Homo sapiens: one gene and its partner. Changing the gene in region 1 together with any one later gene gives a genetic interaction. Each region holds a gene or a part of one and is shown on either strand. Other genes may lie near its edges.

What was found. Genes that interact genetically often act in the same process or in processes that back each other up.
Region 2: changes in SLC3A2 (region 1) and CSK are lethal when combined (synthetic lethality), as found in Homo sapiens cells (one large-scale study listed by BioGRID).

What each region holds. Positions count from the first base shown.
Region 1 is NC_000011.10:62,883,896-62,886,627, reverse strand, and holds part of SLC3A2 (amino acid transporter heavy chain SLC3A2), read right to left. Parts: intron 2,640-2,732; exon of another isoform or gene 2,516-2,639; intron 2,172-2,515; coding exon 2,103-2,171; intron 1,997-2,102; coding exon 1,938-1,996; intron 1,452-1,937; coding exon 1,271-1,451; intron 1,164-1,270; coding exon 1,020-1,163; intron 1-1,019. UniProt on the Homo sapiens protein: Acts as a chaperone that facilitates biogenesis and trafficking of functional transporters heterodimers to the plasma membrane.
Region 2 is NC_000015.10:74,795,580-74,799,079, forward strand, and holds part of CSK (tyrosine-protein kinase CSK), read left to right. Parts: intron 1-2,632; exon of another isoform or gene 2,633-2,653; 5' UTR 2,654-2,718; coding exon 2,719-2,733; intron 2,734-3,035; coding exon 3,036-3,149; intron 3,150-3,246; coding exon 3,247-3,359; intron 3,360-3,500. UniProt on the Homo sapiens protein: Non-receptor tyrosine-protein kinase that plays an important role in the regulation of cell growth, differentiation, migration and immune response.

The DNA.
Region 1 (2,732 bases):
ACAGAGCAAGAACCTGTCTCCAAAAAAAAAAAAGATCAGCTGGGCATGATGGCACGCACCTATCTATGGTACATATCCCAGCTACTCAGGAGGCTGAGGTGGGATGATCACTTCGGCCTGGGAGGCGGAGGCTGCAATGAACCAAGATCATGCCACTGCACTCCAGCCTGGGCGACATAGGGAAATGCTGTCTTAAAAACAAAAACAAAAAACAAACAAACAAACAAAAAAAAAAAGTCGGGGATCAACAGTAACCCTGTATCTAAAGCTAGTGAATGCCTTTGTAGTAGTATCCCTACCATGTATTTCTTTCTTTCTTTTCTTTTCTTTTTTTTTTTGGAGAAGGAGTCTCCCTCTGCCGCCCAGGCTAAAGTGCAGTGGCACAATCTCAGTTCACTGCAACCTCTGCCTCCAGGTTCAAGCGATTCTCTTGCCTCAGCCTCCCCAGTAGCTGGGACTACAGGCGTGCACCACCACACCTGGCTAATTTTTGTATTTTTAGTAGAGACTGGGTTTCACCCTGTTGGCTAGGCTGGTTTCGAACTCCTTACCTCCAGTGATCCACCCACCTTGGACTCCCAAAGTGCTAGGATTACAGGCATGAGCCACCGTGCCCAGCCACTGCCATGTACTTCTCCACTTATTTATCTGGCTCCCTCACTAAACTATGAGCTCCTGAGGGCACAGAGCCTAGCACAGTACCCACTGTCCAAAGAATAAAGGAATGAATAAATGAATGGTGGCTACCATAGCAAACATCTGCCAGGTACCAGGCATTACCATTAAAAACATGCCCTCATTTAATACTAACCACCCTTCAAGAAATGCAGTAACACAAGGGATGACCAAAATTCAGAAAGGTAAAATAATTTGCCCAAAGCCACATAGCCACTCAGCTACTGACTAAGAATCAAACGCGTTTTCACCCCAAGGCTCACGTCTATGTGCCGCCATCCCCAGAATCATCATTGTAAGATGGATAAACAACCTCCCTGTGACAGAAAGACAGCAAGCAGTACCTGTCCAGGAAGGGCAGCTGCATCCAGGCCAATCTCATCCCCGTAGCTGAAAACAGGGGTCCCTGGCAGGGTGAAGAGCATCAGCTGGTAGAGTCGGAGAAGTTGAGCCGGCAAGAAGGAAGTCAGGAGCCTTGCCTGAGACAACTACAGGGAGAGACACTCCAGTGAGCCCCATAACCCACCTCTGCCTCTGTCTCCCAACAACCCTTTCTTCTCCCATCTGCCCCCTTTCCCACCAGCATGGTACTCACACTCCAGCTGCACCAGCGATTGCCAGTGGCATTCAAATACTGTGTGACTAGGGATTTTGTATGCTCCCCAGTAGAACCAGAATCAGACAGGTATGAGCTAGTCAACAGCAAGTCTTTGTTGGATTCGAGTAGGCTCAGGATCTGCTGAAGGTCGGAGGAGTTAGTCCCCGCAATCAAGAGCCTGCAGAGGGGAGGGAGGAGTTCAAGGTTAGCACAAGAAAGAATGGGGCCAGGCGCAGTGGCTCACGCCTGTAATCCCAACACTTTGGGAGGCTGAGGCGGGTGGATCACTTGAGGTCAGGAGTTCGAGACTGGCTTGACCAACATGGAGAAACCCCGTCTCTACTAAAAATACAAAATTAGCCAGGTGTGGTGGCCCGCGTCTGTAATCCCAGCTACTTGGGATGCTGAGGCAGGAGAATCGCTTGAACCCAGGAGGCAGAGGTTGCAGTGAGCCAAGATCACGCCATCGCACCCCAGCCTGGGCAAAAAGAGCGGAACTCCATCTCAAAAAAAAAAAAAAAAAAAAAAAAAAAAAAAAAAAGCTAAAGAAAGAATAAAGGTAAAGAAAATGCTCTAGACTAGGAATCCCCCCTTCTTAGGCCTAGCACTCCACTGAGGGGTTCCCACATTGGAGCTGAGTCAGCAGAATGGCTCCTGCACCCACCTGTCTTCACTGAAGCCCTTGGTGATATTTTGCCACTCAGCCAAGAATGAGGATGCATCCTAGAAAGAAAAAAGCAGAATCAAGGACCAGAGAATATTATGAGGCTCTAGCTGAGTCCCTCTGTTCTCGCCCAAGCTTTGTCCCTAATGTGGAAAGGGAACTCACCTTCAGATTCTCTATGTCCCGAACCTGGAACCCATCCACGCCAGCTTGCAGCCAAAACTCCAGAGCATCCTATAGGGGGCAGAAGAATAAAGGACAGACATCAGTTCTCAGGAAAAGGCTCAGAAAATTCCAGCCCACACTAAACCTCACCCACCACACACTTCCCCGGGAGCTGGGGAGAGTCCTGTGCCTTGCCTGGGTCTTCCCCACCTGCACTACAAAGGCTTAGCCTTTGGACCCCTCCAGCTCTACCCTTCCACTCATTTTCTTAGTGCTACAGCATTTTACTTCTCATTCTTGCCTCTGGCAAATCACACAGCTTCAACTTTGAAAGCCACAGAAAAGGCCCCAGAGAAAAGGTATGTCCATAAACATAACTTCGTTTAACACTTAGCATTGGAATGTTAGCATACCTATTTTAGAGATGAAGAAACAGACCCAGAGAAGCAGGGAGACGCGTCCACAGTCATAATCAGTGAGCAGCAGACAGGATCTAAAATGTCAGTCAAGATCCCCCCTCTCCCAGTTTCCTGAGGCCTGGGGAAGGTGTGAGTACAATAACTGCTCAGAGCAAGGCCAAGGATGAAAGATTGAAATTCAAAGCATAGCCCCAGGGCAGTTTAGATTTGA
Region 2 (3,500 bases), on another chromosome or scaffold:
CAGGTCCAAGGGGGCTCTGGGCTGGGATTACAAAGTATGTGTGTGCAGACGGGTGGGTTGCTGCTCTCAGGGAATGGGGTTGGCTAGGGTAGCTTTTTTGGGGAGTCAACTTTATTGAAGTAAATATACGGTTGACCCTTGAACAACACAGGGGTTGAGGGCATCAACCTCCTCCCTGCAGTCAAAAAATCATATATTAACTTTTGACTCCTCAAAAACTTAACTACTAATAGCCTATTGTTGTCAGAAAGCCTTGTAGATAAAGTTGATTGACACTCATTTTGTTTGTTATATATATTATATACTGTATTCTTACAATAAAGTAAGCTAGTGAAAATAAAATAAGAAAATCATATGGCCGGGTGCAGTGGCTCACACCTGTAATCTCAGCACATTGGGAGGCTGGGGCAGGCGGATCACTTGAGGCCAGGAGTTCAAGACCAGCATGGCCAATATGGTGAAACCCTGTATCTACTAAAAATACAAAAATTGGTCTGCTGTGTTGGCGCACGCCTATGATCCCAGCTACTCAGGTGGTCAAGGCATGAGAATCACTTGAACCTGGGAGGCGGAGGTAGTTGCAGTAAGCCGTGAGTCACCCCACCACTGCGTTCCAGCCTGGGCGACAGAGTCTTGCTGTCTCAAAAAAAAAAAGAAAGAAAATCATAAGGAAGAGGAAATATATCTACTATTCTTTAAGTCGAAGGGGATCATTATGAAGGTCTTCATCCTTCACATTGAGTAGGCTGAGGAGGAAGAGGAAGAGTTGGTCTTGCCGTCACAGAGGTGGCAGAGGTGGAGGCGGAGGAGGTGGAAAGGAAGGCAGAAAAGGCAGGCACACTCAGTGTAACTTACTGAAAAACATCCAGCCACGTGTGGTGGCGCATGCCTGTGGTAATCGCTACTTAGGAGGCTGAGGCAGGAGGATTGGCTGAACCCAGGGGTTTGAGGCTGCTGTGAGCTATGATCACGTCACTGCACTCCTGCCTGGGCAACAGAGTGAGACCCTTTCTCAAAAAAAAAAAAAAAAGAAAAGAAAAAGAAAAAATCCATGTGTAACTGGACCTGCGCAGTTCAGACCCGAGTTGTTCAAGTGTGCACTATACACCAAAAAGTGTGCCGATCGCAATGGTACAGCTCAGTGAATTGTCACAGAGTGGACCCACTTCATGATTGGGCTCAGACAGTCTGAAAACCAACCCCAGAGGTCCCCTTGCATTCCTTCCAGTCTCCCTGTCCCAAGAGCAGCTATCCTGACAGCATGGATTAGTTTGGCCAGATTTTGAACTTTATTCAAATGGAATTACATAATATGTACTTTCCTGTGTCTGGCTTCTTGGTTAACATTTTATTTATTTATTTATTTATTCATTCATTTAGAGGCAGGGTCTCACTCTGTCGCCCAGGCTGGAGTGCAGTGGTGTGACCTTGGCTCACTGTAGCCTTGACCTCCCCAGGCTCAAGCGATCCTCCCACCTCAGCCTCCTGAGTAGCTGGGAGTACAAGCACGCAGTACCACCCCCGGCTAATTTTTGTATCTTTAGTAGAGACCGGGTTTCGCCATGTTGCCGAGACTGGTCTTGAACTCCTCCTGGGTTTAAGCCATCTGTCTGCCTCAGCTTCCCAAAGTGCTGAGATTACAGGTGTGAGCCACTGTGCCTAGCCATCATTATGTTTTGAAATTTATCGGGATTGGCCAGGCACGGTGACTGGCACCTGTAATCCCAGCATTTTGGGAGGCCGAGGTGGGTGGATCACCTGAGGTCAGGAGTTCGAGACCAGCCTGGCCAACATGGTGAAACCCCATCTCTACTGAAAATACAAAAATTAGCTGGTTGTGGTGGTGCATGCCTGTAATCCCAGCTACTCAGGAGGTGGAGGTTGCAATGAGCCGAGATTGTGCTACTGCACTCCAGCCTGGGTGACAGAGCCAGACTCCATCTCAAAAAAAGAAAAGAAAAGAAATTCATCAGTGTTATTTAATGGTTGGAGTTTGTGTTGGAGTTTATTTAATGGTTGGTGTTTACTGCTGTACGTAGTCCCTTTTGTGAATATGCCACTGTTTATCCATTTTCCTCTGGATCGGCATCTGGGCAGCTCCCAGTTTGAGGTTTATTACAAAGCATGCCACTTGTAGCCCTCCTGTGCCTGTCTAGGCAGACACATGTCCTGTGTCCTCTCGGTGTGTACCTAGAAGTGGGGTTGGTATATGTTTAGAGATGCTACCTGGGCGGGATTTTGCAGGTGAAGGACCCAAGGACCCACAGAGCATAAGGGACTTTCTCAGATCACATAGCCCCTTCTCAGAGCTGCTCCGGGGCCCCTTTCCCCACAGAACAGTAGCTGGAACCAGGCCTGGGGCTGACGGTCAGGTGTCCATTGTCCCACTAGCCCCCTTTGCTCCTTTCTATCAGTCCTGGAAGGCCCCCTGTGGCCTTAGGGTTGGTGGCTCCCTCTGCCCCTGGGGGTCCTCAGCCCTCATGCTCCTCTACCCAGTACCGTCAGCCTGCCAGGACTGGAGAGAATGGCCCATGTGTCAAATCCCAGCGCAGGACACTCTTGGCACCTGTTCATGCCCAGTGAGGAGCCAGATCTCAGCAGTTGGGGGGCATTTCTTCACACCCCTCCTCAGTCTTCATGCTCTTCCCCACAGCTCTAATGGTACCAAGTGACAGGTTGGCTTTACTGTGACTCGGGGACGCCAGAGCTCCTGAGAAGATGTCAGCAATACAGGTACCACAGGGGTGAGGGTCTGGGACATGCAAGCATTCCCACCAGCCCCAGCGGGGTGCTTAGCAGAGGAGAGAGGATGCAGCTTAGATCAACCCACTCCCCTTTTTCCCAGCACTCAGTCAGGTACAGGCCTGGGGAAGTGGGGGAGTCTCAACAGGAAGGGACCCAGGGCTCGTTCTCCGGGCAGAGCACCTCACCCAGGCTCACAGAGGCCAGCTCAGAGGCTGTGACCACGAGGGTGCGCCAGCAGGTGGCTGGAGGGGGCCCAGGCTGCACCCGCCCACGTGTCACCTGCCTTGCAGGCCGCCTGGCCATCCGGTACAGAATGTATTGCCAAGTACAACTTCCACGGCACTGCCGAGCAGGACCTGCCCTTCTGCAAAGGAGACGTGCTCACCATTGTGGCCGTCACCAAGGTAATCAGGTGACGCCCACCCCACCATCCCACTGCTGGGCCTTCCCTCTGCAGGGGGAGGTGGGCCTGAGAGCATGTCTGGGCTGCCCTCTCCCCAGGACCCCAACTGGTACAAAGCCAAAAACAAGGTGGGCCGTGAGGGCATCATCCCAGCCAACTACGTCCAGAAGCGGGAGGGCGTGAAGGCGGGTACCAAACTCAGCCTCATGCCGTGAGTACCACGAGGAGGGGTTGGGGAGGGAAGGGGCCTTGGTCCTCCTGAAGGAGCATCAGGAGCAAGCAGGGAGGCCAGAGTGAGGGGCTTGGGTGTTGGGGAGGGCCTCAGGAGGAGGTGCAGGGTGCGGGTGCGGGA